Linked DNA regions of Homo sapiens: regions 2, 3, 4 and 5 are each linked to region 1. The links come from fine-mapping of genetic effects on gene expression. A gene starts in region 1. Each other region holds a variant in brackets. All regions are shown on one strand. Distances are from middle to middle. Region 1 holds the start of MYO5A (myosin VA). Region 2 overlaps MYO5A (myosin VA). Region 3 overlaps MYO5A (myosin VA). Region 4 overlaps ATOSA (atos homolog A). Region 5 overlaps MYO5A (myosin VA).

Evidence for each region. PIP is the estimated chance that this variant, and not a neighbour inherited with it, causes the effect.
Region 2: its variant is fine-mapped to the expression of MYO5A in whole blood (TOPMed, PIP above 0.99).
Region 3: its variant is fine-mapped to the expression of MYO5A in esophagus mucosa (GTEx, PIP 0.96).
Region 4: its variant is fine-mapped to the expression of MYO5A in neutrophils (BLUEPRINT, PIP 0.92).
Region 5: its variant is fine-mapped to the expression of MYO5A in subcutaneous fat (TwinsUK, PIP 0.95).

What each region holds. Positions count from the first base shown.
Region 1 is chr15:52,525,258-52,531,587 of GRCh38, reverse strand. MYO5A (myosin VA) reads left to right here and starts at 2,708. Exons shown (of 42, transcript NM_001382347.1): 1 at 2,708-2,808. The coding sequence starts at 2,782. RefSeq lists a silencer at 2,179-3,058.
Region 2 is chr15:52,377,652-52,383,981 of GRCh38, reverse strand. It overlaps MYO5A (myosin VA), which reads left to right. Exons shown (of 42, transcript NM_001382347.1): 16 at 794-891; 17 at 4,074-4,160; 18 at 4,249-4,357. Among named protein-coding and RNA genes, the nearest start is that of MYO5C, 85 kb to the right of the region's middle. RefSeq lists enhancers at 169-398, 439-498, 4,274-4,663. The variant G/A (reference allele first, on the strand shown) is at 3,434.
Region 3 is chr15:52,329,894-52,336,223 of GRCh38, reverse strand. MYO5A (myosin VA) reads left to right here. Exons shown (of 42, transcript NM_001382347.1): 35 at 5,725-5,871. Among named protein-coding and RNA genes, the nearest start is that of MYO5C, 37 kb to the right of the region's middle. RefSeq lists an enhancer at 4,347-4,476. The variant C/T (reference allele first, on the strand shown) is at 3,395.
Region 4 is chr15:52,643,372-52,649,701 of GRCh38, reverse strand. All of the region lies in intron 2 of ATOSA (atos homolog A), which reads left to right. Among named protein-coding and RNA genes, the nearest start is that of ATOSA, 33 kb to the left of the region's middle. The variant A/G (reference allele first, on the strand shown) is at 3,624.
Region 5 is chr15:52,430,772-52,437,101 of GRCh38, reverse strand. It overlaps MYO5A (myosin VA), which reads left to right. Exons shown (of 42, transcript NM_001382347.1): 2 at 3,817-3,927. Among named protein-coding and RNA genes, the nearest start is that of MYO5A, 95 kb to the left of the region's middle. The variant AG/G (reference allele first, on the strand shown) is at 3,102.

The DNA.
Region 1 (6,330 bases):
GCTCTTCATCTGTTTTGCTCATGCCTGAATTCTCAACATGTAGAACAATGTCTGGCATATGATAGCTTCCAATATTTGTTGAAAATAAGGAATGGAATTTTTCATATAAACCTAGACATTGTTTTCATTTGAAAACACCCTACATAAAAATGCTCCCAATAATAAAGCAATAACGGAAAACTTTAACAACTTAAGAATACACTACCCTCTGGCTACTCTGAGAGGGGGATCCTAAACCCTTAGAAGCTGTAACTATTGCTGATTTCTACACCTCACTAGTGACAGGGTGCTTGGGACTATGAACGCATACATGGAAGTGAGCGGAGGCCACCCCTCGGGGCTTCCCTTTGCTGCTTCTGGCTTTTTACTCTGCTTTTTTTCTGAACAAAGTAAAGTAAGGTCAAGAATACAGAACCCGGCCAGGCGTGGTGGCTCATTCTTGTAATCTCAGAACTTTGGGAGGCTGAGGCGGGCGGATAGCCTGAGGTCAGGAGTTTGAGGCCAGCCTGGACAACATGGTGAAACCCCGTCTCTACTAAAAATACAAAAATTAGCTGAGCGTGGTGGTGGACACCTGTAATCCTAGCTACTCAGGAGGCTGAGGCATGAGAATTGCTTGAACCTGGGAGGCAGAGGTTGCAATGGGCCGAGATTGTGCCACTGGACTCCAGCCTAGGCAAGAGAACAAGACTCAGTATCAATCAATCAATAAATAAAAATACAAAACTCTTCTCCTCCTCATCTCCATTACCTTCCTCTTAGTATGGCCCCAAATATTTGAGTGGTTGAATGCATGCGTTCTGGACTTATAAGAGGATAATTCCCCTTTCTGTTTTCTCCTCATCACTTGAAAAAAATAGAAAACGAAGAAAGCATTCACACCTACAAGAACTCGTCCAGTTTTTTAGTTTTTTTTTTTTTCTCAGTATACTCAGCATTTCTCGACAGTCCTGAGAGGTAGGTATTATTTGAAGGTGAGAAAACAGGCAGAGTGGTTACCACCTTGCACACGACATGAAGAAACTGCAAGGCGTAGGAGCCAGGCCTCCTAAATCTCAGTCCAGTGCTCCTTCCGTTCCGCTGGTCGTCACTGCACACGTTTTCTCTTTTTATGTCTGGGTGAAGAAAGAGTGGGTCCCAGAAACATGAAAGCGATTTGGTTTTGCAATGGGAAGGAACAGAGACAAATCTGTAGGACTTTCGACTCAGTAGACATTCCCTCTAGCATTTCTGAGGGGATTGTGGGCGAAGAGGAGAGGTCTGAGTTCCACGGAGTAAGGACTGGCCCCGTTCCTTTCAGTGAATGGTCTTTCTCCAAATACACACGCACACAACACACACAACCGGGGGCCTCAGCCATGAGAGTTGTTCGTGATAGAAATGGTCTACCAGATTACCATGACAGGCACTGGGGACCAGTTGTAGTTCAAAGAAACGAGAGATGAGGGCACTACAAAGAGGCAGGGATTAAACAAACAAAAACAGCAACAACAACAACGACAACAATAAAGAATGAAGATTATTCAACCAGAAACGACAATGAGGGTGGGGAGAAGATAGAGGATGAAGACAGCGCAGGGTTGGGAGTAGAAAGACCACATTCTTGTGCTGGATGTTCAAGGATCACCGTGAGGAGAGTGAGGGCGGCTTTGCCCTTTTGATGTTGAGTTAAACTGTAATACAGATTTTCCATGTAAGTACTCCGTCATTTTCAGGTGGCAACCGGATAAACTTCAGGTGCCACCATGGAGCCGACAATCACCAGCAGCGAACAGGACGGGAAGAAGGCTGGGACAGAAGGGTAGTTGCATCTCCGCAAACGCACAGGTCTAGGAAAGAGGCACCTGGGCTGTCCCCGGGCTATCTCGTTTCAAAGTCACTTAAGTTTCTGTAGCTTAGAAGCGGCCCTTGCCCTCTGGTATCGGGAGACGACTTTGCTGCAGACATCGAGGTGCTCGGAATGACCTTGGTGATCAACCTTAACCTGAAATTCCCGGTCCTGCATTGCCCATCTCCCGGGTCACTGCTGCTGACAAGGCTCTTCTACAGTCCTGGGTTATTCTACAGTCTTTCAAGAGGGCTTCCCCTAAATCCTCTCCCTAGGAATGCTTGGAAGGACGGGAGGAGCAGCCTGGAGGCTCCCATCGTTTATTCGGACACAGTAACAGCCCGTGCCATGGCTGCGCTACCGCGGGAGCTAGGCTCCGCAGCAGAGGGCCCCGGGCTCGCTTCGGGGTGGGGGCGCCCGGGGTGTGCCGCGCCCTCGGGGCTCACGTCCCGGGCGGGTTTCCGGGCCTCGGCAGGGCGCGAGGCGGCGGCGGGGCCGGCTGGCAGGCTGATGATGATGATGCTCTGTGCTCGTAGCCGATGGGAGGCAGCGTGAGCCCGAGAGAGCCCAGAGCAGCCGCGGTGGCAGCGCTGGAGCGCAGCCTCCTCCCGCTCCCATAATGCACAGGGCGGCGGCGGTGGCGGCGGCGGCAGCGGAGGCAGCATCGCGGGCCGCCGAAGTGGCTGCGGCGGCGGCGGCGACCCCTAGGACCCCGGGCAGGTGGAGCGCTCGCGGCTGCTCGCGGCGAGCCCGGGAGTGATGGCGAGGCCCCTGCGGGCGGCCAGCGCCTGAGGCGCCCCGCCCCGCCCCGCCCCGCGCGGCCCTCCCCGCCCGGCCCTGCCCTGCCCTGCTCCCTGCCGGCGGCTGCGGGCGCTTCCTAGTCCGCTCGGGCGGCCGCCCAGGCGAGGTGCGGCCTCCGCACAGGCGGGGGGCGTAGGCGCGCGGGGCCCGCCATGGCTGCGTCGGAGCTCTACACAAAGGTAAGGCACCCCGCGGCCGGCGTCGAGGACTGGGGCTGTGCGGCCCTCGCCGCCAGCTGTCAGGCTGGGGAGGGGGCGGGAGCGCCGGGCCCAGGCGAGCCCCACCAGCGCCATCCCCTTCAGCGCCTCAGAACCCTCGGCCCTACCAGCCGGTCGCCCGCTGCGGCACCTTCCTCTTTCGGGCGAGATGGTGAAGGCGGCGGAAGGTGGCCCGCCTCGGGGGTCTCCCAGGCCCCTGCCGCGCTGCTCGAGCTGGGGGCAGAGCGGGCTTCGGAGTGGAAAGGGGGCCCATGTGGATTTAGCAGGGCGGGCGTGCCTCCCCTCCTGCTTGGCTTTGGAAAATTCCCGGCGGGTGGGAGATGCTTGCTCCAGTAGATCGGATGGGTTCTCTCGTGGGGACACGCGCTTAAAATAACGTCTTGTGTTGGTATGCAGTGCCGCTTCTACCGCCAGCTAGCCTTTCTGTGAGGTTATTTTGAATCCTGCAAACGGTGGCCGTATCACCTTTAGCTCCCCAGTTTAGCTGCGCTGGGGGTGGCGAGCCCCGGGGAAAGATGCTGCCGGATGAACGCGAGCTGATTCACCGGCTGGGAGGGTCGGTACTCATTTATCGCTGGGAGTTTGCAACCTGCGTGTAATCCCGCAGAGCCTTGTTAGGCTCCATGTCTTTACCATCCTCTGGGGCAAGCCTTTCCCTTCTGGGTTTGGTTTAAGGGAAGTGGCAGTCTTTTCTTAGACTGACATCAATATACTCAGGGTCTGGCGATCTCTGAATGACATATTATGGAGAACTGTCACTTGAGTGCTGCGCAGATTTGTGATGACCTTTGTGAATATATGTAATCATGGCATTTTATACTGTACACTCATGTGTAGGTAGATATTTTGCCAGATATTGATTACTTCTACATGCAGTTAATAGAGTTGCCTTTTCACATTAGCTTTTGCAACAGAACTTTCATTTAGGGTCCTGTAATCACTGGAATCATTGTTTCCAAATGTCACTGAAGTCCAGGGCCCAAGTTGCAGTGTGTTTTGTAGAGGAAAGAAGACTGGGCATCAAGAGACCTGGATTCAAGCCGGGACTTACTAACTGTGACCTTGGACAAGTCACTTAACATCTCTGGTTCGATTTCCTAATGAGTAAATGCAGTTAATTATACTTGCCTTGCATCCCTTACAAGCTGTTGTGAGAATCAAACTTAATAATCGTTGTGAAAGCTTTTTGTAACCTATGAATTTCTCTGCAAATATGAGATATATGATTAATTTCTTCAACCATGAAATGAGCTTGCATGAAACATTGTCTGAGACCTCTTTCTTTCTAGTTTTAGATTTAACGACTGTACAGTTGGAACTTCTCTCTCAACCTGGTAATTTCTTTAGGCATTGTAGATCTCTAACATATGAACGAATGCAATTGGAAACTGATTAAAAGTAACTTAAACACTTAATATGGTGCTTGCTATGTGCCAGGTACTGTTTTAAGCGTTTTAAAAATATGAACTCATAATCCTCATAAGGAACTTATGAGGTCGATATTAAGAAATATCAAAATCATTTTCACATGAAGAGATAATCAGTCTGTAAACATTCCTTGGTTACTTTGTGTAGCCCATCCCCTCCACTTCTACATCAAGTTTGTCCAACCCGCAGCCCATGGGCCGCATGTGGGCCCAGGACGGCTTTGAATGTGCCCCAACACAAATTCATAAACTTTCTTAAAACATGGGTTGTTGTGTTTTTTTTGCAATTTTTTTTTTAGCTCATCATTTATCATTAGTGTATTTTATGTGTGGCCAAAGAAAATTCTTCTTCCAGTGTGGCCCAGGGAAGCCAAAAGATTGGACACCCTCCGTTCTATATGGTGAGCAGTCATCTTTGAGTCACCTAATAGTAGGCTGCTTAACTAGAGACTGAGTGGATAATAAATTGTTGTTGGATTTCGAATGCTTTTTTCCCCCAGGATAATTTGGGAGAAAAAATTGAAAAGATGTTGTGATTTGTAAATGGTAAAGTTTTGGGCTTCTGTCACAGCTTTATCACAATCTATTTTAAAATTTACCTTTTAACAGCCTGAGGAACATAATGAGACCTGGTCTCTACAAAAAAATTAAAAAGTTAGGCTGGGCACGGTAGCTCACGCCTGTAATCCCAACACGTTGCCGAGGTGGGTGAATCACCTGAGGTCAGGAGTTCGAGACCATCTTGACCAACATGGCAAAACCCCGTCTCTACTAAAAATAGAAAATTAGCTGGGCGTGGTGGCGCATGCCTGTAATCCCAGCTACTCAGGAGGCTGAGGCAGGAGAATCACTTGAACCTGGAAGGCGGAGGTTGCAGTGAACCAAGATCGCGAGCCTGGGCAACAAGAGCGAAACTCTGTCTCAAAAAATAAATAAATAAATAAATAAAAATTAGCTGGGCGAGTTAGTCACGCCTGCGGTCCCAGCTACTCGAGAGCTGAGGCAGGATGATCAGCTGAGGCAGGAAGATTGCTTGAGCCTGGGAGGTTGAGGCTGCAGTGAGCCATGACTGTGCCACTGCACTCCATCCTGGGCAAAACAGCAAGACCGTGTGTTGAAAAAAAATTTTTTTTAACCTCTTTGTCATTATAAAGACAGACTGGCTTAGAGATCAAGACTGAAGTTGGGGCTTACACTGCCTTCTTCTAAATATACTTATGCCTAATTAATAGTCTGGTTACTTGGTTATTTGTTGGCAAATTCTTTTTGTGAATGGGCCTTAGCTTAATGGCAAGCAGAAATACTTATCAGGCATCCTGTGTGCCAGGTACTTTGCTTAATGTTTAGAGGATTTAACAATGAACAAGATACAGTCCTTTCCCTCAACACGCTCATAGTCTGCTTCTTACATTCTTGACCCACTTTGAATCTATAGGGGCATAAATAACCTGCTGTTACCTCAACAGCAGGCAGACAGCTGGTATGATATTTATTAGTAGAAGTTAGGGAATGGGTTGGGACATGGGGAAGGTTGGGCTGATTCCAGAGATAAAAACTACTATTGTAATTACTAGAGGAATAGGAAAATCATTAGAAGTATTATCAGTGGATAAGCACAAGGATCTTCCCCTTGCAGAGGATTATAGGAAGGAAGTTCTAGGATAGATTACAAGGAAAGATGTATTAGTGATATGCCATAATTATGGTATTTAACATTGTGGTTAAATCTGAAAAGTGCTCTTTAAAAAAATGTCATTCAGATCTTAAGGGCAGATTTTAATGTGTGATACAGATCAGTTCCTATTACAGTGAAGGACAAGAGACTGTTCAATTTCTTCTTTTTAGCCAGAATGGTAATGGTTTTGTCACAGCAATTTAACAAGGCTTCCATTTTGTAAGTTTTTCCAGCAGTATAAACATTTTAAGGACAATAGCTAGGTTCTTGGGATACTTGTCTGGAAACGAATATTTTGGTTAAAACATGTTTTGTTGATTTTTAAAAATAACAGCTTTATTGAGATATGTGTCTTATACCATATAATTCACCATTTAAAGT
Region 2 (6,330 bases), 150 kb after region 1:
CTCTGCATAAGCCTTTCCCGAAATAATTTTCTCTACAGCTTAATTCTCTCGTGCATATCGTCTCTCAGACCACCCCATCTTTGCTTAGTTTTCTGTTTGTTTTGTCTCTATATTTGTACAGTGCCTCGGTCAGCTCCTTCAGAACAGGGCCCTCGCCTTTCTTTGATGTCTTATGTTCTCTGAGAGTGGGAAATGTTACATACATGCTTAGTGCCTGAACAGGGAGTAGGGCTTTGAATGGAGGCTGAGCGCTCCTCAGCTTGCTGTCCTGTGCATGGGACCCTGTGCCTGGTGTAGACAGAAACAGGGCCTGACCCAGGTCCACAGCCTCCAGTCCTGATCCTAGGTCCCTAATTTTAACTCCTCTCTGCCTATCCTTTGTCATTCTCTCATTCATTACCTATACTCTTTTAAGTCATCTGCTACGTTTTCCAGTATCTTCCATCAAAATTCCCACTTTATGTGATTAAATAGCCTTAAAGCAAGGTTATATTGTTAGTTACATATGACTAAGCTCATAACAGGTTTCTGTAGCTTCCTGTGGGGAAAAGGAGTGGGAGTATAGGAATCTATATTTAGCAGAGTAAGCATGAAAATGGTAGAATTTAGGCAAATTTTAACCAAAAGCCCTAGCATTCTTGTTTTGTGGCAGCTCCTCTTCTGAAGATGGGTCAAGTTTATAAGTGGCAAAGTTTTCTCCATTAGTGTCATAGGAAGGGAATTTCCCATTGTTTTACCTCACCTTTGACTTTGGACAAAGCCTTGATACCCTCTTCTGCCCTTTTTCATGCAGTTCAGAAACTCCCTGCACCTGCTTATGGAGACACTCAATGCCACTACCCCTCACTATGTGCGCTGTATCAAGCCTAATGACTTCAAGTTCCCATTCACGTAAGTATTTCTGAACCACCCAGTGAAAAAGTACATATCTTATAAGAAGTGCCAAACCAGCCAAGCAAACTAATATTTTCCTTACATTTTTATAAGGAAAAAAATATTTGGGTAAGTCTTCATGCCTTGTAGAGGGAAACCACTAGTCAGTAGATTATTTTTTCAGTTTTTGTCCCTTTTGAGAATGTGAGAGTAAATTAGCAGCCATCTGAAGATTTGAAAACTTGAGGTCAACCAAGCATTCTGGTTCTGTTTTCTGTTTTGAATTTACTTCAATTGATCTCTCTGGGATTTTTGTTCATTTGGGCATTAGGTGGAACCAGCACTGGCTGGGATAAGGCTGTTTGGCGAATGCTTACCTGCTGCTTCTCCACTGCTGAAATCATCAGAGGGTGTCTGTTTTCACCAGCACCTCCTCCTGCTTCAGATACCATGCATGAAGGGAGAATCAATTTTTCTGGAGTTTTTTTTACAAAACAGAAATATTTTTCTAATTTTATGTATGTATTTATTTATTTTGAGATAGAGTTTCACTCTTCTTGCCCTGGCTGGAGTGCAATAACGCGATCTCGGCTTACCGCAACCTCTGCCTCCCAGGTTCAAGTGATTCTCCTGCCTCAGCCTCCCGAGTAGCTGGGATTACAGGCATGCACCATCATGCCCAACTAATTTTCTATTTTTAGTAGAGACAGGGTTTCATCATCTTGGCCAGGCTGGTCTTGAACTCCTGACTTCGTGATCCGTCCCCACTCGGCCTCCCAGTGGGATTACAGGCGCGAGCCACCATGCCCAGCCTATTTTTCTAATTTTAAAAGTAATACATGTACATTGTAAAGACAGTTTTCAGGAAATACAGAATAGTATAAAAATAAATGAAAAAGCATCCGTCAGCCGGGTGCAGTGGCTCACACCTGTAATCCCAGCACTTGGGAGGCCAGGGTGGGTGGATCACCTGAGGTCAGGAGCTTGAGACCAACCTGGCCAACATGGTCAAACCCTGTCTCTACTAAAAGTACAAAAATTAGCCGGGTGTAGTGGCGGGCGCCTGTAATCCCAGCTACTCGGGAGGCTGAGGCAGGAGAATCACTTGAACCTGGGAGGCTGCAGTTGCAGTGAGCCGAGATCACTCCACTGCACTCTAGCCTGCGGGACAAGAGTGAGACTTCGTCTCAAAAAAAGAAAAAAGGAAAAGAAAAAGCATCCATCATACCCAGAGAGATAACTGGTATTAACTGTCATACATTGTTCTTGATTAACCACCTTCCCTTCCCTCCATGCTCCGTGTGTGTGTGTGTGTGTGTGTGTGTGAGAGAGAGAGAGAGAGAGACACAAAAGGAGGGGCCTTGTGCTATGATTGCTGTTTAGTCTTTACTTTTAACTTGACAGATTGTGAACACTTTCCCTTTTGGTAAGTAAAAAGTCACATAATCATATAATGGCTACAGAGTATCCCATTGTGTAGACATAGTATATTTATTTAAATTAGTTCCTACTGATGGCCATTTAAGTTGTTCCAACAATGCTATAATAAACATCCTGTGCCAAACATTTTTGTATATTTGTCTGATTATCTCATTGGGATAATGTGACTCTAGAAGTGGAATTTATAGGTCAAAGACCAGGCACACTTAACAAAGGTTGTAATAGCTCCCACCCCTCACCCCCTCCACAGTGTATGAGTGCCCTTTTCCCTACCCCCGTGCCAGTCCTGCTGTCTGGAGATTCTGCCTTAGACTGGAGCACAGTTCTGAAGGACTGCTGTCTTTCTCTCTGCTTCATCACCAAGAAGTCCTTTCTGGAAGAAGTGGGAAGCAGGAAGAAGCTGCTACACTTTGGCCTCTGTCCTGGACAGCCCTCAGGACCATGACCTTTTATCAACCAACCCGCTCTTCCACCACCAACAGACACCTGAGAAGATAGCACAGGGGAGGCCCGGATGGATCGCTCAGAACTTAACTATGGGAGTCACAGGAGCAATCATTTGGCCGAAGGGAAACCTTTCTACTTCCTCTTCAGTGCCAGTTTAACTTGAAGATGTCATTTGCCTAGAGTAAAATAAATACAAAATGTAATACAAAACAAAAATCTTGTTCATTGATGTAGACACTATGTTTAGAACAGTAGTAATTTTTAAAAAAATATAACCGTATGGGGCATATTTAATTTGTGCTTCCTGTTAGAGAAATCTCCAGGGTTGACCAGTCTTTATTCCAGGGGAGCTCTGTATACTGAGCTAATGACTTCTGAGAGCTTCTTGTCAGGCCATGCCATGAAATGAGTATGGGCAAAGTGCAAAGGAGTGCTGTGTTGTTGCTGTTGTTTTTTAGACGGAGTCTCGCCCTGTCACCCAGGCTGGAATGCAATGGCGTGGTCTCGGCTCACTGCAACCTCTGCCTCCCGGGTTCAAGCGATTCTCCTGCCTCAGCCTCTGGAGTAGCTGGGATTACAGGCGCCTGCCACCATGCCTGGCTAATTTTTGTATTTTTTGTAGAGACGGGGTTTCACCATGTTGGCCAGGCTGGTCTCAAACTGCTGACCTCGT[G/A]ATCCGCCTGCCCTTGGCCTCCTAAAGTGCTGGGATTACAGGCGTGAGCCACTGCGCCCAGCCATGTTGTGTTGTTTTAAATGTGCTCAGTGGACTTTCTTTTTGTTGTTGTTGAGACAAAATCTCATTCTGTCACCCAGGCTGGAGTGCAGTGGTGCGATCTTGGCTCACTGCAACCTCTACCTCCCAGGTTCAAGTGATTCTCCTGCCTCAGCCTCCCAAGTAGCTGGGATTACAGGTGTATGCCACCATGCTCGGCTAATTTTTCTGTTTTTAGTAGAGACGGGGTTTCACCATGTTGGCCAGACTGGTCTTGAACTCCTGACCTCAGGTGATCTACCCTCCTGGGCCTCCCAAAATTCTGGGATTATAGGTGTGAGCTACCTCGCCCAGCACACTCTTATGAGTTTGTGGTTTGAGTTGCAGGTAATGTTTACAGCTCTTTATTTTTACTGCTTATCATCTCCTCCCCATTCTCTCATAGTTTTCCATTTTGATCACTGCTCCGACTTCTGAAAGCTTTCTTTTCTGATTTATCCATTTTGCTCTTACGAAAGAATTTACACCCTGACTGAGGAGAGTAATTTGTGGCCACCAGCCAGGTTCTTTGTGGACTAACAGCTTTGATTTTTATTTGTAGGTTTGATGAGAAGAGGGCAGTGCAGCAGCTGAGAGCATGTGGTGTCCTGGAAACCATCCGAATCAGTGCGGCCGGTTTCCCCTCACGGTGAGCCTGGCATTTTTCAGATGTAAGGGATCCTAATGGGAGAAGATCCTAGTTCTTTAAGTAAACTCAGATGGTTTTCTTTTAATAGGTGGACTTACCAAGAATTTTTCAGCCGCTACCGTGTCCTAATGAAGCAGAAAGATGTGCTGAGTGACAGAAAGCAAACATGCAAGAATGTGTTAGAGAAACTGATACTGGTGAGAATGATTTCGCTTACCGTCATCTGAGCAGAAGGCCTTGTGGTTCTGACCTTGGAAAGCCCCGGGAACTTTTGTATAACATTTTACTAGTCCAGATCATTTCGGGGTGGGATCAGAGAGGGGCACACTACTGTGTTTAGGATGCTGGAACTAGCGAGGATGATAGTCCACCGTCAGGAGGCAGAGCTGTGAGGCCTGGACCCACATTTGAAACACATTCTTCTTAGACAGCTTGATTATTATTGATAAAAGTGTACCTAGTACTTACATCTAGAAGACACCAGGCCAAATGCTGTGTGATTAAGAAAAAATAAAGCTTGTTCTCAGGTAATATAGTCTTACTTGGAAAGTAATACTTTTTAAAGACGAGTATAATATTTAACTGTAGTGTCTATATCAAATGCTGAATGAATGGAACAAGAAATCAGGGGATGACAAAGCGACGTCCAGCTATGGGAAGGAGAGATTTCATCAAAGAGGTGTGTTTTGAGTCAGGCCCTGAGAATGGGTAAGGTTATGCAAAAATGGAAGGAGACTATTATAAGAGGGAGTAAGAGCAGGGTAAGCATAGGGTTTGCTCAGAAAACAGTTTTTTGCAGTGTGAGATTTGTGTATGGGACAGTAGAGAAATGGTTAGGAAATGTAGGTTGGTGTTACAGAGAGTCTTGCAGACCAGGCTAAAGAGTTCTCCAACTTTACTGTGACCTGGAATGCTTGTTAAAATACAGATTGCTGGGCCCCGCCATCAGAATTTCTGATTCAGTAGGTCTGAGGTTGGGCCCAAGAATTTGTATTTCCCGGGTGATGCCGATGCTGTCTGAGGACTATATTTTGAGAACTACTGATCTTGGTCTTAGAGAATTAAAGATTCATGAAAAGTTTTTAAAATAATATTTTCACTTGGTTAACACTATCCTAGATGGAGTACCTCACTTTGAGCTAATTGATCATAATTACTAGCTGTGAACTAAATGTGATGCCTTTTTTTTGTTAATAATATTTTTTCCTTGAAAGAGCTAAGGCCACTTCCTCAGCAATGCTTTTTTTTTTTTTTTAACTGGGGCTTTTTGAGTTTGCCCCAATTCCCTTCTTTTTTTTTTTTTTTTGAGACAGTCTTGCTCTTTCACCCAGGCTGGAGTACAGTGGCATCTCGGCTCACTGCAACCTCCGCCTCGTGGGTTCAAGCCATTCTCCTACCTCAGCCCCCCCAGTAGCTGGGATTATAGGTGCACACCACCACACCCAGCTAATTTTTGTATTTTTAGTAGAAACAGGGTTTTACCATGTTGGCCAGGCTGGTCTTGAACTCCTGACCTCGTGATCTGCCCGCCTCGGCCTCCCAAAGTGCTGGGATTACAGGTGTGAGCCACTGCGCCCAGCCTGCCCAATCCCCTTCTAACCTGTGTTCAGGTGGGAATGTAGAGCAGAAAGTAGGAACAGGCCTATTCCTGGTCCTCTCACCCAGGCCATTTCAGGCCTGGATCAGGGCTTTGTGGGAATTTAGTTAGGCAGAGGAGGCTGAAAGATGGAGGCAGGGTTGGTGTGAGGTGTGAAGCGGGATGCGGGTAAGGACCACTTTTCTAGCTAGGTTTCCAATGTAAACTTTATTGATTTAAATTGAAATAATTGTAGATTTTTTAGATATATGTGGATGTGTCAGATTTTTTGGTTTCATATATGAGATAATATGAGATATCTACTCATAGGGAAAAATGATTTTCTCTGTTTTCCCTTAGACTTTCAGATCACATGGCCAAGCATGGTGGCTCACGCCCTTAATCCCAGCACTTTTGGAGGCCGTGGCGGGCGGACTGCTTGAGGCCCAGCGTTTGAGGCCACCCTGGCCAATATGGTGAAACCCTGTCTCCACTAAAAATACAAAAATTAGCTGGACGTAGTGGTGTTTACCTGTAATCCCAGCTACTCAGGGGGCTGAGGCAGGAGTGTCGCTTGAACCCAGAAGGCGGAGG
Region 3 (6,330 bases), 200 kb after region 1:
TATCTTCTATATGCCAGACAATGTGCTAGGCAGTATAGCATAGGAGTTAAGAATGTGGATTCTGGAGTCAAGCTTCTTGGGTTCAAATCTTAGCTCTTCTACTTATTAATCATATGATATTGGGCAAGTTTCTGAACCTCTGTATGCCTGTGCTTTCCCATCTGTTAAATTAGAAAGATAATAGCATCTATCTGACATGGTTTATAAGGATTGAATGAGCTATTAGGTTGGTCCAAAGGCAATTACTTTTAATGGCAGGAACTGCAAATGCCTTTGCATCAACCTAATAAGTATATTACACTTAGAAAAGTTACTGACGCATAGTAAAAATGCTTCATGCGACTTAGTTATTAGTCACTATCATTATTCTTAGTATTAGGGATACTAAGATGAGTATGATAGAGTCTGTCCTCAAAGAACTTACAGTCTAATGGAGGAAAAATAGAGAAGTAAAAAAGAAAAATATGAATTATGATGATAAAGAAATAAGATTTTTAAAAACATCTCATGATTTCTATATGATGATGATGAAAAAATTCCTTGAGAAATAACCAAATATCAGTTGTTGTTATTATTTATATACAAATGGATCTTATCTTTTCTATTAGTGTGTTTATGTGTTTATTTGTTAAGAGTTATAGGTACAGGGATCTAGCAGTGAACAAGGCTAAAGCCAAACTCCTTTTTTTTTTTTTTTTTTTTTTTTTGGAGACAGAGTCTTGCTCTGTCGCTGAGGCTGGAGTGCAGTGGTGCAATCTCGGCTCACTGCAACCTCTGCTTCCCGGGTTCAAGCAATTCTCCTGCCTCAGCCTCCTGAGTAGCTGGGATTACAGGTGCATGCCACCATGTCCAGCTAATTTTTGTATTTTTAGTAGAGACGGGGTTTCACCATGTTGGCCAGGCTGATCTCGAACTCCTGAGCTCGTGATCCATCTGCCTCAGCCTCCCAAAGTGCTGGGTATAGGCGTGAGCCACCGCTTCCAGCCTAAAGCCAAATTTTAAGCTTATTTCAATGTTCTCACTGCTTAAGGGATTTTGAGACAGTCTTTGGAATAGCCTTCAAACCTGTGTGAACGGTTAATCATTTTCTCTCATTGTCATTCTGCATCTAATTCTTGCTTGGTTCAAACAGTGAAGATTCCCCATCACTGAGGATGTTCAAAAGAATCTATCATGATTAACTCCAAGTGTGGTTTTCATTCCTCCAACATGCCAGGTCTTGTCATAACTGCTCCTTCTGTTTGGTCATCCTGCTTCTCCTGGTTAAGTCCTGCTCAGCCTTTGAGACCAGAGTCATATGTCACATCCTCAAGAGTAGCCTTTCCTGATTACCCAGACAGACGTTATGGTTCTGCTCTCTGTGTACCACAATTTGGCCGACATCTTTTATGGTCTTCACTATGTCATATTTTTAGCAATTTTTCTGTTTGAATTACTGGCTTCCATAATAGACTCTGAGCTTCCTGAGCATAGAAAACATCTCTGTTTCCCTTTGCTTTCACAGCACCTAGCATAGTGTCTGACCTATCTCATAATCATTCCATAAATGTTTGTTGAGTGAATGAGTAAGTTTCAGAAATATTTATAACATGGCAACATGGACATTTACTTTGTAAAGGATATTACTCTGTTGGATGTACAAATACTGAAATATTTGTTTAGAAATCAGAAAGATTATTTTATAGTCACACTTTATATATAATCCTTTAGCATTACATGAGTCATATATTACATTAAAATTTGAGCCTCCACATCACACACTCACACACACATGAGCTATAATGTCTATTAGCAGAACTTAAAAATCTTTATTCAGAGAACTTTTTGCACTTTGCACCAATTATATCATGAGATGATAATCAGACAGCAGAGTATTTGTTTGAAAAAAACAGATTTTAAGTGTATTAACATGTGAGATTCTTTTTTTGTTCAACTCCTAATGATTCCTTTGCCATACTTTAGTAAATTTTGATAAACAGAAAAGCCATTCATTATTTTACATAATTTTTATTAGTTTTCTTTGATATGTATATTTTTTAGTTGAAGAGATGGGTTAGACTATTTTAAGATATTACTAATCTTAAGCCATTGTCAATCAGAAATCAACCTCATCATTTAAACTATCCAGACAGCTGTAAAGCCATAAGTAGCATTTGAGAATAGCAATTCATAGATCAAACAAAAAAGGCATTATAATAGTTCTTAAGAAGAGTTACATTTTGAGTTAAGTGATACATATCTAGAGGATGAAATGAAATAGATTTATGTGACTTGGGCACTTGCTGAGTGCAGTGTACCTGCTTCTACCCCAAATAAAGAGAATCAAGGTGACACTTTTCATCCTCGTATCTGCCTGTTACACAGAAAATACAGGCACCTTCTAATAACTAAACGTTGTCTTATACTTTTCTTTAAATGTATTGCAACACACTTAAATCCTTTTGGTTTAAAATAGCACAACTCTTGCCTCCTCCTACAAGCTACATTTAATTAAGGAGGCTTTTTAAAAAGCCAACAGACTTTTAAAAAAAATGCTAGCATATATAATTTTTGGCAGAAACTATATAGCTAAATGGAGAGTGTTTCAAAATTTGATCTGCTTTGTGCTATATTTTCACCCATCTTAATTTTCATGGAATCAAGAAATTAAGACCTGAAAGGATTCTAGAAATCAATTAGTTATTTCATAAGAGGAAAAAACTAAGGCCTGTAAGTGACCCATGGTTGCAGCAGGTGAGATGGCAGGACTAGAACACATACCTTCTAAGGGCCACTGATTTCTCTCCTTTGTGTCAAATTTTCCCACAGAAATCTTCTACTTATTAGGAATTCATCTGATTGTCTCAAACTTGAGATCAAGATCTTCCTGGTGCCAAAAGTAAATTTTTTTAAAACTTTCCAATTTTCTTTCCTTTTTGAAGACAGAAAGGTTCCCTCAAGTTTATAAAGAATCTAGAAAATGAAACTAGAGTCTTTTTTCAGGTCTTCCTAGAAGAATGGATCATTGGGCTCCTCAGTCCCTTTGTGCTGCTATAACAAAGTACTTGAGACTGGGTGATTTATAAAGAACAGAAATTTATTTCTCACAGTTCTGAAGGGTCAAGACACTGGCAAGTTCAGAGGGTCTGGTTTCTGCTTCCGAGATGGCAGGTGCCTTGTTGCTGGATCCTCTGAAGGGGACGAACTCTGTGTTCTTACATGGCAGAAGGTGGAAGGGCAAAAGGCTTAGCTAGTTGCCTCTTTATTTATTTATTTATTGAGATGGAGTTTGGCTTTCATCACTCAGGCTGCAGTGCAGTGGCGTGATCTCGGCTCACTGCAACCTCTGCCTCCCAGGTTCAAGCGATTCTCCTGCCTCAGCCTCCCAAGTAGCTGGGATTACAGGCATGTACCA[C/T]CATGCCCGGCTAATTTTTTGTATTTTTAGTAGAGATGGGGTTTCTCCATGTTGGTCAGGGTGGTCTTGAACTCCTGAACTCAGGTGATCTGCCTGCCTTGGCCTCCCAAAGTGCTCTGATTATAGGTGTGAGTCACTGTGCCCGGCCAACATTTTATTTTAATTAGTAGATAATATTGCAAAATCAATCAAGGTTATGTTGAACTGACATCTAAATTTCATTTGTGAGCTTTGCAAAGACTTAAGTCCCTAGGGAGAATTCAGAGGCAGAGAGAAAGTTTTTAGTGAGAGTATGGCACATTCTATCTGACATTTTTATACAGTACCAAAAATATCCTGGTTAGAGATTTTGCAAAAGGAAGGTGAAGCTTCCTTTTAAAACATAAACTTTCTTAGTAAAAATATCCATTGTATTTCACAAATTCTGAGATGCAGTGTTTCCCATTTCAACATCTCTGAAATTGGGGTGTATCTTACAATTGTTGATGGGTTATAGTTTAGTTGGCAATTTTTTTAGTGTTACATAAAATACTGTATTTCATAACCGATAGCATCATAGATTTGATAAATCAGTGGGTTTAAAATATGCTCTTTGGGTTACATGGAGTCCAAATATGTGCATTTATTGATAAACCTAGTATGTTGAACTTGTTTTCTCCCAGTTTCCCCTTTTGGAATTGTACATGCGGCTTAAAAGTTACTAGTGGCATAGATGGCAGGGGTTTTATAATTTTGTTTTTTACATGCAGCTGCAGGTTTATGATCTGTAGAGGCCACTGTGTGCTGCTTCAGAGGTCCTTGTGGTGTTGTGTTTAAACTGACACCAGAAATTATGTAAAACCAAACAGTTTGAGTCTCCTTTTCTCTTGCATGGAAGAATATACTTTAGAGTTAGTCCCGTGGCTTTCATACTGGATCATGCATATGAAAAACTAGATTATGGGAGATGGCCGTAGCCCTGATCTGTCCAATCACAATCTGACCACTCTTTAGATATCATAGTGTTGCTGGATGGTGGTGACTTCACCTAAACCAGATTTTCAGCGCTGATAGTCCCAGTGTGTGCTGCTGCAGCATGAGGTGGACGGTGTGTCACCAGGCTCCATGCCACATAAGCAAGAGCACTGGCAGGTACTGATGTTCTCTGTGATAACCTCTTCCTGTGGGACTGGCTTCTCAGAACTAACCCAGGAAATTACCCAGAGTGACACAAGAAGCACTACTGACACCTCGTGGAGTCAGCAATATTAAGCTTTCTAATGTTTTTGCATCTGATCTGCATTTTGTTTGACAGCAATCTCAGAACTCAAACTTAATCTGCCCTTAAACAAATCTCTTAACCACTCTCCCTCCCTGTAGATAAAAGGATAAAAAACCTGGTTACTAGCGTGTATCTCCACAGTGGCTGTGGTAACTCATATGTCCCTTTACTTTTTGTTGGATTTCCCACTCAAGTCTCAATTTTGAGATGAAATTGGAGACTTTTTTTTTTAACCTTTAGCATAATTCTCTAGCTGCTGCCCTTGACAATAGTGACTATTTTTAACATCTGAAAGCATTGTAAACCAGTGGTTGTACTTCATTGATTGCAACTTTATAAGTAGAATTTTTAACATTATATTAAAAAGAAATAAAAAATAATAACATTTAGGAAATCATACTACATAGAGATAGTTTATCTGTTCATGATTTCTCTGGGAATGAGGATGGCAGGAGAAAATTAGGTCTTTGCCATATGAGGCCTTTGTGAAAAATAATACATTTTGGACCAAGTGGTATGAAGAAACACTCTTCTACCAGCTATCTGTATGTGTTTTGAATTGATTGTAATGATACATTTAAAGTAAATGTTCTTTTGCTTTTAATGGCTAAAGTCATTGAGCCAAGAGCAAGGGGGAATTGTTTCTGCTCCTTCTGCCCCTTTGTAGGATATTGATTGTTCCTCCTGTGAATTAAAGTCAAAATATGTTTAACCATTTCTGATTAGTATCAATTAATTAACAAATCTGTTAAACCACTTACTTTTTGGACATTTAATCTTATTAAAAAGTAAGCCTTATTACATAAAAAAAAGTTTTGAGTCATGTAAGGTTATTTGATGTTAATTTACAGTTAGGCAGGAGTGGCTTTCAGAGTAAGATGACCATATAATTTTGCCATCTGTTCACCCAATTTTAACAGAAAAAAATTATTTTAAGAGAAGGCAATTAAGTGGCAAATATGGCAAGTTTCGGTTGTTGTAGAATGCATTCAAAATTATAGGAACTTGGAGACCTCTCATGTTTTTTATATGGAAAACATTTTCTCCTCCTTTCTTACTTCTCATAAAGTGGGCCAGATGGAGAACATATCCCCAGGACAGATCATTGATGAACCCATCCGACCAGTCAACATTCCCAGGAAAGAAAAGGATTTCCAAGGGATGCTGGAATACAAGAAGGAGGATGAGCAAAAACTTGTTAAGAACCTGATTCTGGGCAAGTATTTTCTGCATTGGATAAAAGTTCCTTCTGGCACATGGGTTAATGGTGGGAAAAACTAGTCACTAATTTTTGAGATATTCAGCGTAGGTTTCATTAGTCATCATCAGATACCATGTATTCTAGTGCTGCAGTAGTGTTCTGACCACACCAAGCACTTTCAGTCCAACTGCAGGGACACATGCCTCAGACCCACCTACAAGGATTGCTCAAGATCAGGTCTTCTCAGCCCTGGCTGCACATTAGAATCACCTGGAAGCTTTGAACCATACTGATGTATCTCTCTCCCTCTTGCCCAGTTAAATCAAAATCTCTAGAGAGAAGAGCCTGGCAATGTCTAGTACTTTAAAAAAAAAAAAAAGAAAAAGAAAAAACCCTCAAGGCCAGCCTCGGGAAAATAGCAAGACCGCATCTCTCCAAAAAAAAAAAAAAAAAAAAAAAAAATTACCCAGGCGA
Region 4 (6,330 bases), 120 kb before region 1:
ATATAATTTTTATTGTCTTTGTCTATGTCATATCTTTAAATTGGCTATTGTTTTGTGCTTATGGAAAAATACTTTAATTCTCAAAAACAGTGATTTCTTTTTTGTTTTTGCCTCTTTATAAGGAATAGCAAATAGAAGTGCTAGTATTTACTAGATGCAGTGATTGCTACAGTTGGTTTTAAGTAAAACAGATTGTTTTTGATTATTTTGAAATCAGGCAATAATATATAATGCTGTTTACAGTTCTTTAAAAAATATGTAACTTAAAAACTCAGATTGGGAAGGGGTAACAATCTGAGTTTTTCTTTTTCTCTAAGTGTTCTGTGAAAATCTTTTTTTAAGTCGTTCCTACTTCAGGTATTATCACAAATGTTTGATTTCTATATGTATGCCTTAAGTGATATATGACACATTTTTTTCCTTGACTCTTCCTTGCGGAAATTTCATTACTTGTTCATAGTTTGAATCTAAGAAATATTTGCTTTTCATAGTCAGCAGGGCCAAAACTTTGGTCTTGACAACTTTTTGTCAGGCATTTTCACATATCGACAGTGTTTTTGCATAAACTGTATTGCTTTTGCAAGTATATAGTAAATTTTTTTCTTAATCTTCAGATGTTATAGTATCAAAAATTCAAAGACCTAAGTTTTAAAAATGTAATTGTTTGCAGTATTACTTGAATCTATTATATAATCCTTTGTGATGAGGCTCAGTTATAAAAGTGACAGCATGAGGACTATTGAGAAACTGGAAATATCTTTCTGTTCTTTCTTCACTGGATTCCTCAGTTTTACTCACTGAAAGACTTCTGGACATCATAGGACTTGAAGAGAAGGTTTATAATAAGCCCAGGAACAGTAAAATTATAAATTTGAGGAAGTAGTCAAGATAGAGTATAAAAAGTAATCAGCCCCTAAGGCTCATACATGGATGGGCCTCAGATTTTGCTATAAGCTTCCTGTCATCTGTCATATGAGAGGGATGCTGTGTGAATCAGTTATGTATATTCCTGTTCTTTAACATTGCTAAATTTTTACCATTAAAATTTATGTTGGTTTCTGTTTTCTTAATATTTTGAAGGTGTTTTGTTTTTTGAGGTTCAAATTTTGGGTGGTGGGTACAAACATACAGTTAGAAGAAATCGTTCTGTCATTCAATAATATGATAGGAAATTATAGTTAATAATTATTGTATATTTCAAAATACCTAGAAGAGAAGAATTGTAATGTTCCCAGCACAAAGAAAATATAAATGTTTGTGGTGATGGATATTCCAGTTACCCTGATTTGATCATTACACATCATATACATGTGTTAAAATATCACATGTACCCCCAAAAATACATACAACTGTGGTATATCAATAAATAAAAAGGAAAAACAATTTTGGGTGGATTGCCTGTATAATTTATTATTTAGCTGTGTAATATTGGGCATAGTTTCACCTTCTGGGCCTTAGTATCCCCCTCGGTATCATGAGATTTTAGGATGATTGTGGGATTTAAATGAAAGAATGTGCGAAACTACTTAGATTCATTACTACTTATTAATTAGCTATTATAATAAAATGTGAGATTGTATTATAACTTTCCTTTAAAGTTATTCTACGTTAAAAACGTGAATATGTTGAGTTTTCTCAGTATTTTGAGAATTTTAAGCATAGTTTTTTAGACCTTTCCCTAAGATACACTTCTAGGTTTCTCAGTTTCCTAAGGTACTTCATTAACTGGAAAGCCATGGAGATATGGGGATTGGGGCAGAAAAAGAAGACAGGGTTCATGGGTAAGTGCATGGCTAAATATCTGAAGAAAGATAATAGTCAATAGTGGTAAGGAAAGAATGAGTAAAATGAGAAGAGACATAGAAGGCAAAAGAAACATTTGTTCTGTTTGTAGTGTTTTGATAACATATTCATACAGTTTGATTCTTGTAGTGTTATTGTTTCTGTTGTGTGTGTATGTACACTCGTGTGTACTGACACCCCCAGATTTCCCCCACCCCTTTGACCCCTGCAAATGCTGAGCTGATTGACTAGAGTTGCTAAATCCCTTGGTGATTTATTTACTGGGAAGTAACTTTATTCTGACTTTTCTTTTGAATTCCTCAGCTAGAACTGAGCTAAAGGTGACATTGTAATTGCCTTCCATATTAATGACAAGGGACAAGCCAGCTGCCTGGAAGGCAGAAATTAAATATCATCACAGATACGAGTGTAATTGTCTTGAAATATTAAAATTTAAGACTAAAAATCTAATGGTTTTGTGAAAACTCAAACTTCAAAGCCAAAATGCTCTTTTGTCATTTTCATAAGTACACAAAACTTCAGCTTCTTTCAACTGACCACAGTATTTTCATTGCTTTGAGCTGACATATGTTATTTTGGGAGAGAGGTTTAATCTGGTTTCCATTCTATTTTTCATATTTTGATCAAGGGTAAAATTTTTGTGATTTTTTTTTTTTTACATAAACTAATTTAGCCCTCCAATTTGCTGGAAGGTGCAGGTTAGCTTAATGAAAGAGAACACACAAATGTAAAACAAAACAAAAGTATTTTCCAAGTATACTCCATTTTATCACTGTCATTGAGTCCAGTAATATTAACCAATTAGCTTCTGCATTGGGCCCAGAGACTACTTACAGTTGACAAAAGGGGAGGAGAACCCTTTTAAAAATAGGTATCCTAATTTTAAATGACTACATTGCATTGGTGTATATGTTTTTGGGTAATGCATACTTACCTTAAATCGCTTCTCTCAAAAATATCCATGTAGAAACAGAATGATTGCTGTACGTCAGCATCTTCTACTGACCCTTTTGAGAATGTGCTGAATGCTATCAACCCCCTTGCTAGGGGGAAAAACACATCTATATTTATGTACACATAATTTTGTGGAAAATACCAAAGAGGATCATAAATTACCTTAGGTTAAGAACTTTTTTTAACATAATTTGTTTATAGTCAGAGTATGAAAGCATTAATATTTAAAAATTGAGGCTTAAAACAGACTGGATGCAACTTTCAGAATATGTATGCAAGCAAAGTGTCACATGGTTTTTTTCCCCCACTTCAAGGGATATGGTAAAATGTTCCCATATGTGCTCCATACATTAGTACCCTTGTAGATGGGTTTGCCCTGGACAGTACCCAGTATCCCTTTGTGGACTCCTACGTTCTAGATGGGCTTCAAATAGAAAACCTAGCACAAAAGGACCAGCCTGGAATGCGGTGTTCAGGTCTTCAGAACCTACAGGCCACATCTCTGAGTTGTAGACTGAGATTAGAGAAGACCTAATGACACCTCCTTTGGCCTTAGACTGCCACCCGGAATCTCTTCCAGAAATCATTCTGCACAAGAAATGACAGGTCCACTGCTATGAATGTCACCCAGTTCTATCTTTGTTCAAGAGAATCAAGCAGAACTGATCTGTGTGTGCCCAAGTTTCTCACCTCTTAATTAAAAAGACCTGTCTTCCGTCCACTTTTTATTTCTCCAGGAGTTTTAGATTTCACACATAGACGCATTCAGTGGGAAATAGGATGTTGAGAGTACTAGAAGTAGGGGTCATTCATATGGTTGGGAGAAGGATGTTGAAAGGACAGAATGTATTTTGGGAAACCAGCCT[A/G]TGTTGTAACCATTTTCCCATGAGGTAAAAATGTAAGACTAAACTAGGTTAAGTTTAAGGATAATTTTGGAAAGTCATGTGCCATTTGTGTAGGATTAATGAAGCTGGGGGAAAAAAACAGCACTGGGATAGTGGATTGTTGCCTTTTTAACACAGAATATTCTTATGAGAGTACAGGTAAATCTAGAATTTGGTTTTGAGAGGCAGGAGTTTGTTTCCTTTTGTTACAATGTTTTCTCAGATCTTTGTCTCAGAGTTCTTTCTGTATGAGGTGTGGAGTGATAACACCATATAATCAGGAATATTCCCACAAAGAATAGTGAAAAGGACAATATTTTCTACTTGAGAGTCTTCAGGCCCTGAGACTATGATGAATTGTGTCTGATGGTTTACACAGAGCACAGAGAAATGAAATTGAATAGGATTAGTGCAGGTAAGACAGAAATGAATTGAGGAAACCAGTAAGTTTTCTCGATAACACTGACTAGTTCTAAGTCATACATTTTAGATATCATACCCACTGGGAGCTTTCTCTGATGTCCAAGATTGAGTTCCCTCCTAAATATTCCCATAGCACCTTGATCTACTCCTATTTTATTTATCTTTTAAAAAATTATTTATTTATTTATTTATTTGAGATGGAGTCTTGCTTTGTCGCCCAGGCTGGAGCGCAGTGGCATAGCGTGATCTTGGCTCACTTCAGCCTCCGCCTCCCAGGTTCAAGCAATCCTACCGCCTCAGCCTCCCAAGTAGCTGGGATTACAAGCATGTGCCTCCATGCCCAGCTAATTTTTGTATTTTTGGTAGAGATGGGGTTTCACCATGTTCGCCAGGCTGGCCTCGAACTCTTGACATCAAGTGATGTGCCTGCCTCGGCCTCCCAGAGTTCTGGGATTACAGGCATGAGCCACTGCGCCTGACCTCATTTATCACATTACCATGAATTAGGCTTATCTGTGTTCTCTCCATACGACTGCCCCCTACTAGAAGTTAGCAACAGTAGCTTATTCTCCCATTGCCTCTGGAGAAGAGCTGAATCTCAGACAGTTTTTAACACATAAATATCAAATACTTCTTTTTTCTACTCTTCTAGCCTTTCAAATTACTTAGAATTTAGTTTTCTTTGTATAGTTTGAGTTGCCCTCAGCTGCTCACATAAGCATTCAATAGGTTGCTGTGATCAATCTATAATCCTTTAAATGACTGTTGAGGCCTAGAAATTCTAGTAATCAATACAGAAATTAGAACTCAAAGTGTTCTCCCCTTTTATTTTTTATTTTTGACAATTTTTGCCCTTGATGTAGAGATTTAGTGATTGCCTAATCATTTTAAACAAATGTTTCCTTATCTCATTGAAGAGAATTACATTGATAATATAGAAAAACAATTGGCAATTAAAATATGAAATCCAAGAGAAGAATAAAGTAATAGTTATCTGGGAAGGGTAACAATTAGCTTTCATCACTTTAACCAGAAATAAGCTGAAACTAAGAAAACAAAATACAGTGAAACATTAAACATCCATTTGAGTGCCTACCTGTTCATGTCGAGCACTGTGCTAAGCAATAGTAGTTGGTCTTAATTCTCATAAAGCTCAAATAATGACTTAATTTTATTTGTGCTAAATTCTAAGAAGGAAAAGTATAAGATGTCATAGGCTCTTCTAACAATGATAAAAAGACATGAAAGAGGGTAATAGGATCAGATGAGATGGATGTAATGAAGAATTATGTATGTAAGCTGAAACAGAGATCATCTGATTGTTTCTTACCCTAATTTTTTAATCTGAAGAATCTGATGAAGAGGTAAAGTTAAATTTTTCCTCCATAAGAATAGAAATTAAGTTAGAAAATGTAGGCCAGGCGCAGTGACTCATGACTGAAATCCTAGCACTTTGGGAGGCCGAGGTTGGAGGATTGCTTGAGGCCAGGAGTTCAAAACCAGCCTGGCAACATAGAAAGACCATCTTTCCAAAAATTAAAAAAAAAAAAGCCTTTCACAAAAGCAACAAACATCTAATTTTTGAATAAACTTAACAGATATATTCAGGAACTTTATAAAGATTTTAAAACTCTACCAAATAATATTTTTAAAGACTTTCATATATGGTGAGATTTAAACCTTTAAAATACAGGGTTTTTTTGTTTTTTTTTGTTTGTTTGTTTTGAGACTGAATCTCCCTCTGTCGCCCAGGCTGGAGTGCAGTGGCGTGATCTCGGCTCACTGCAACCTCCGCCTCCCGGGTTCAAGTGATTCTCCCGCCTCAGCCTCCTGAGAAGCTGGGATTACAGGCACACGCCACCACACCCAGCTAATTTTTGTATTTTCAGTAGAGACGGGTTTTGCCATGTTGGTCAAGCTGGTCTCAAATTCCTGACCTTGTGATCCGCCTGCCTCGGCCTCTCAAAGTGTTGGGATTACAGGCGTGAGCCACTGCGCCCGGCTAAAATACAGTTTTTAAAAAGTTAGTTCCAAAAAAAAAAAAAAAGAGTTCAAGGCCAGGTACTGTGGCTCACACCTGTAAGTCCAGCACTTTGTGAGGCAGGAGGATCACTTGAGCCCAGGAGTTCAAGACCAGTCTGGGCAACATAGTGAGATGCTGTCGCTACAAAAAAAAAAAAAAGCCAGGTGAGGTGGTGCATGCCTGTGGTCCCAGCTACTCAGGAGGCTGAGGCGGGAGGATCCCTTGAGTACAGGAGTTCAGGGC
Region 5 (6,330 bases), 94 kb after region 1:
ATTTCAGTAACATGTTTGATATATGACATTAGAAATCACTTCCTATGGGAAAAACAGTAACAACCCCACCTTGTACTTATATATTGGTTTATACTTTTCATGAAGTTTCTATGTGCGTAAGCCTTTGCAATAAACTAGAAGACTATTGTTGTCATCCTCATTTTATTGTTGCCTGAAATAAAGGCCAAGGCCCATCTGGTGGCCCTGGGAGTAGAACCCATAGTCTAATTCCATACTCTTTCCTCTGCAAACTGTTTAGATTAAAAGTTTGTATGTGTTGGTAATAATAAGAGAAAATTAAAGCAATTGAGCGAGCTTTTAATCATGCTACTTATATTCAATTTAAAGAGATGCCTTTTATTCTGATCTTCTTTCGATAAGTTCTTACTAAGCACCAGCTCTGTGTCAGGTACTGTTCTAAGTACTGCCTGCTGTGTTGAACAACACAGACACAGAACTTATGTTCTAATGAAGGAAGAGAGATAGTAAATAAGTAAACAAACAAGAACATAACAGCAGGTGATTTCAGATAGTGAATAAGAGTGCTGAAGAATGTAAAATAGAGAATGGTAATAGTAGTTTGGATTGATTTCCGCTAGAAAGGTCTGGGAAGGCCTCTCTGAAGAGGTTTACATTTGAGCTATCATATAAGTGAGAAGGAGGCAGACATAAGCAGATCTGGGAGAAGTACATTATAGAGGGCTTAACAAGAGCCAGGGTCTAGAGACAGGAGCAAACAAAACTGTGTTCCTGAAGAACTAAAATAAGATCTGCATAGTGCCGGCTTAGAGGTTGGCAGGGGAAGGAAAGGACAGGTCATGAAGGCCCTTGTAGAACATGGTAAGGGATTTGTATGTTAACTATGATGGCCAGGCCAGGTGTGGTGGCTCACGCCGTAATCCCAGCACTTTGGGAGGCCAAGGTGGGAGGATCACTCTCTGAGGCTAGGAGTTTGAGACCAGCCTGGCCAACATGGCGAAACCCTGTCTCTACTAAAAATACAACAACAACAAAAAAGTAGCCAGGTGTGGTGGCAGGCACCTGTAATCCCAGCTACTTGGGAGGCTGAGGCAGGAGAATCGCTTGAACCCCAGAAGCGGAGGCTGCAATGAGCCGAGATCATGCCATTGCACTCCAACCTGGGCAACAAGAGGAAAACTCTGTGTCAGAAAAACAGAAAACAAAAAAACTGTGATGGCTATTTGTCCTACTGTTTTCTTGTTAAAATGTCCTTTATTTTGTAAAACGATGGTGATATTAGACAGTAAATTGGTATTTATGTTGCCTCTGCTGAGTGTGAGGGCTTTAGCCTCTACTTGTCTGTAAGTGCTGCCAATAATTAATGGTTTTATAATCTTACTTGTCAAGACTAAAAGTTAGTTAATAACCTTATATCAGTCCCCAAACTTTAAGTAAAAAATTTTACCAGCCATGAAATCTAGTAGTTTGGAAACTATGGCAATATACCACAGCAGCTTCCCAATAGGAAGGCTTGAAAATATTTGTCAGTAAAGAGGTTAACATAGGCTGGGCATGGTGGCTCATGCCTGTAATCCCAGCACCTTGAGAGGCCAAGGCGGGTGGATCATGAGGTCAGGAGATCGAGACCATCCTGGCTAACACGGTGAAACCCTGTCTCTACTAAAAATAGAAAAAAATTAGCTGGGTGTGGTGGCATGTGCCTATAGTCCCAGCTGCTCGGGAGGCCGAGGCAGGAGAATCACTTGAACCCAGGAGGCGGAGGTTGCAGTGAGCCGAGATCGTGCCACTGCACTCCAGCCTGGGTGACAGAGTGACAGAGTGAGACTCCGTCTCAAAAAAAAAAAAAAAAAAAAAGAGGTTAACGTAATATCCAGGACAGTGGCATGGCATGCTGAAATGTTTTTCTTAATTTAAATTATCTTGAATCTCAGATCTACCTGTACTTTCGTTCACCCACTTTCTTTTCGCTTTCTCCTATCTGTAAGTTCATCACTGGGTCATATAAATTTCTCTTGTACTTGGGAATGACCTTGTTACAAGCTTCCAGAACTTTGTGCCCAGTACTTAGAATAGTCATTACATTATCACAGTTCTTTGGGAAGTTGCCCCATATTTAACATACTCAAATCCAAATGCTCCTTCTCAAAGCTCCAAGTAAATTAGTACCCTGATTATTGTTAAAAATGAAATCTAGAGGTGAATTTACATGAAATGAGGATACAGATACAGGCCAGAGACCGGGTTCAGTCTGGCCCATGCCAGCCATGATTGATTGTGTCATGTCTTTCCCTTGCTGGCTGAATCTAGGATTCCTGTTTTCATATGTGATTTGTTCATGAAAATGGGCATTTAGGTTTAGTGTATGTGTGTTTTAAAGGGAAATTTCTTCCCAGAGAGTCCAAGCACATAAAAACACTTCTTCAATGTGGTATTCGAAAGATTTGTGCATGTTAGTATATTTTGTTCTTTTTCTTCAAAATTGACCACATAATCTTCTGGCTTATGTCCAGGGAGTATCTAGTTGAGGCAAAATATTTGCTGCTTTGGGAATCCCTGATGATTACCATGCCTTTTTCATGATGTTGAGGCTACAGGAGCTAAGCTTATTAGTGACTGGCTGTGCCATTTTTACCATTTCCCACTCATCTTTATAAAATAATGAAGGCAAAATGCTGAACAACCGTGTTTCTTCAGTTTTAAAAAATCTGTTATTTTTATTCTCCTCTTCTCCCTACTGTGATGGCTCCTGAAGGATGTCTGAGAAATCACTAAGGCTTTGCAGAGCACAGGATGCAAACCACCATAAAAAAATCCAAATTGTGGGCCGGGCACGGTGGCTCATGACTGTAATCCCAGCACTTTGGGAGGCTGAGGCAGGTGGGTCACGAGGTCAGGGGTTCGAGACCAGCCTGGCCAACATGGTGAAACCCCGTCTCTACTAAAAATACAAAAATTAGCTGGGCACAGTGGCACATGCCTGTAGTCCCAGCTACTCGTGAGGCTGAGGCAGGAGAATCACTTGAACCCGGGAGGCAGAGGTGGCAGTGAGCCGAAATCGTGCCACTGCACTCCAGCCTGGGCAACAGAGCGAGACTGTATCTCAAAAAAAAAAAAAAAAA[AG/G]AAAAAGAAAGAACAAAAAAATCCAAATTGTAAACCCAGCCATAAAAAGATGGCAGTGCTGTTGAAACTGGCAGAACCACAACACCATAGCTTCAAAAATAGATCTTATGTGTACATTTTAACCTAAAATTATACTTTCAGGTGGCATTTACTGTGTAAAGCAAAGTCAAGCTTTGATCATAACTGTTTTTTCAGAGCACACTTTTTATATAATTTGGGAATGGTGGTGCTATGAGAGCTAAAATATTTTTTGTTTACTAATTTAAAAAGTAAATTTCAGCTGGACGTGGTGGCTCACACCTGTAATCCCAGCACTTTGGGAGGCTGAGGCGGGTGGATCACCTGAGGTCAGGAGTTTGGAGACCAGCTTGGCCAATATGGCGAAACTCCATCTTTATTAAAAACAAAAAAATTAGCTGAGTGTGGTGGCAGGCGCCTGTAATTCCAGCTACTCAGGAGGCTGAGGCAGGAGAATTGCTTGAACCCAGGAGGCAGAGGTTGCTGTGAGCTGAGATCATGCCACTGTACTCCAGCCTGGGCAACAAGAGCTTAACTCTGTCTCAAAAAAAAAAAAAAAAAAAAAAAAGTGAATTTCATGTTGGCCAAGATTTCTTTTTTCATAAATTGTTTAATTATAAATAGTTATCATATGTTTATATATGATTGTAAAATAATTGATTTGCTAGTTTAAATTTTTTTCTTTTTGTCTTCTAGTTTGCCAGGGTTTGGATACCTGATCCAGAGGAAGTCTGGAAGTCAGCAGAGCTGCTCAAAGATTATAAGCCAGGAGATAAAGTCCTCCTGCTTCACCTCGAGGAAGGAAAGGTGAGATCTCACTTTCATTTGTTGTCATTGGCATAAAGTGAAGGGAGTTCAAAAGTGTAAATTTACTGTGAAGTAAACTCCCAATGGAAGTTAAATTTTGAACTTACCTAGAATTTTTACTTACTAAATTGGTAAAAATGGCAAACTCAGTTTTCTATCCTGATAGTGTTTTTAATGGCATAGATTAGTGAAAATAGCAGATACTTTAAAAAGCTTCTATTTTGGCCTGTGAATTTATTATGATTATCAGGTTTAGATTCACATCTAATCCTAAAACTCTTGCATTTAACTGGTGTGCTATGGGGAGTGCTTGTAGTGTTTTTAAAAAGAGGCATGGTGCCAGGTCTTAGAGGAGACTCATTGGTGGCAGCATGGAGAGCAAAACTGAGGGGAAGATACTAGTTGGGAGGAAGGCGGGGAAGAATTAGGCCAATTAGGAGGGCTTTTAATACCAAACTAGGGAATTAACTTATTTAACATTTATTGGTCATCTGCTTTGTTAGGCAAAATGTTCGGCACTTTGGAGTGAATTTTCTCACGTTAAATTTCACACCAACCCTATGGGTTGGCAGGTGATATAATCACTATTTTCCAAATAAGAAAGCCAAACTTCAAAGTCATTAAGTAGTTTTGCTCAAGGTCACACAGCCAGGAAGTGGCTTTTGGAATTTGAAGTGAGATTTGAACACAGATGACTCTAAGATGAGTGCTTATACTATTTGACTATATTGGATTTTTGCAGATTGCTGGCCATGACCAGTTGCTTAAGGTGATGTCTGCCATGTTATCCACTGTAAAGTTACTGTTTTCCCTTTGTAATTAATGAATGTCATTGTGTTGGGGCAGATGCTTTGAGGCCACTCATATATCCTGCTTCTCCTTAAACTTTTCCTGCTAATATTTGCCCAGTGTTCATTACTGTGTCTTGCCTGCAGCAAATATCGTTGTGTTCTAGTGGTGATTCTCCATTTCTTTCCTTCCTTCTATACTTATTAACTAGAATTCTTCTATAGGGAAGGAAGTATTGTTTCTCCTCTCCCATTTATTTATTACTTTAATCATTTATTTATTATGGGCTCATGGGTATTTCTTTTATTCTTCATTACTATCATTATTTATTTTATCAATTAAATTGTTCCAGCTTTGGTCATTGAGATCTCTCTTAGATTGGGTCCTTTGACTTTTTTGACAGGTCCCTATCCTTTTTTATTTTTTTTTGAGGCAGGGTCTCACTTTGTCACCCAGGCTAGAGTGCAGTGGCTTGATCATGCCTCCCAGGCTCAGCCTCCCTCCCTAGTGGCTGGAACCACAGGCATGAGCCACCATGCCTGGCTAATTTTTAAATTTTTTTAGTAGAGATGGAGTCTCAATATGTTGCCCAGGCTAGTCTCGAACTCCTGAGCTCAAGCAGTCCTCCCACCTCGGTCTCCTGAAGTGCTGGGATTATAGGCATGAGCCACTGTGCCTGGCTTATTTTTTTTTTTTTTTTTAGATATAGCACTTCTCCTGGTACCCTAAGATACTTACCCTGTATTTCCCCTTTCCCAGCCCTGTTACCTTATATTGGAGGATAGTATTTGACAGCCAAGATCTGAGCACTAGGTGTGCTCATTGCTATTGAGATGACACCACTTCTCAGCCCTCTTAGCATAGAGAGCTAGAAAAATATATACATGGATGGATAGATAGATACTAATATGTATGCATACTATACTAATGTATACTCAACCATCTATACTTACTTTATGTCTATGTTTACATATGTATGTATGTGTTTGTATGTATGTATTTTATATATATAATGTGTTTTTAGAGATGGTTGTCTTGCTATGTTGCCCAGGCTAGTCTTGAACTGCTGGGCTCAAGAAGTCGTTTTACCTCGTCCTCCCAAAGTGCTGGGATTAAAGGCATCAGCTACTGCACTAGACTTTTTTTTTTTTTTTGAGACGGAATTTTGCTCTGTCACCCAGGCTGGAGTATTGTGGTGCAATCTCGGCTCACTGCAGCCTCCACCTCCCGGGTTCAAATGATTCTTGTGCCTCAGCTTCCTGAGTAGCTGGGATTACAGGCGCATGCCACCATGCCTGGCTAATTTTTGTGTTTTTAGTAGAGACAGGATTTTACCATGTTGGCCAGGCGGGTCTCAAACTCCCAACCTCAAGTGATCCACCCACCTCGGCCTCCCAAAGTGCTGGGATTACAGGCATGAGCCACTGCACCCAGCCTTGACTTTTTTTAAAAAAAATAAAACCCGTGAGTTAATAGGGATCCTTTTTTCTCCAGTCCAATGCCACCAGGTTCATTCTATTATTCTTCCTTTGATTATGTGTACTATAACTTCTCTTTTTGGTTTTCATTAGCTATATTACTTATTCATTATAGACATAAAGTTATTTCAGAATT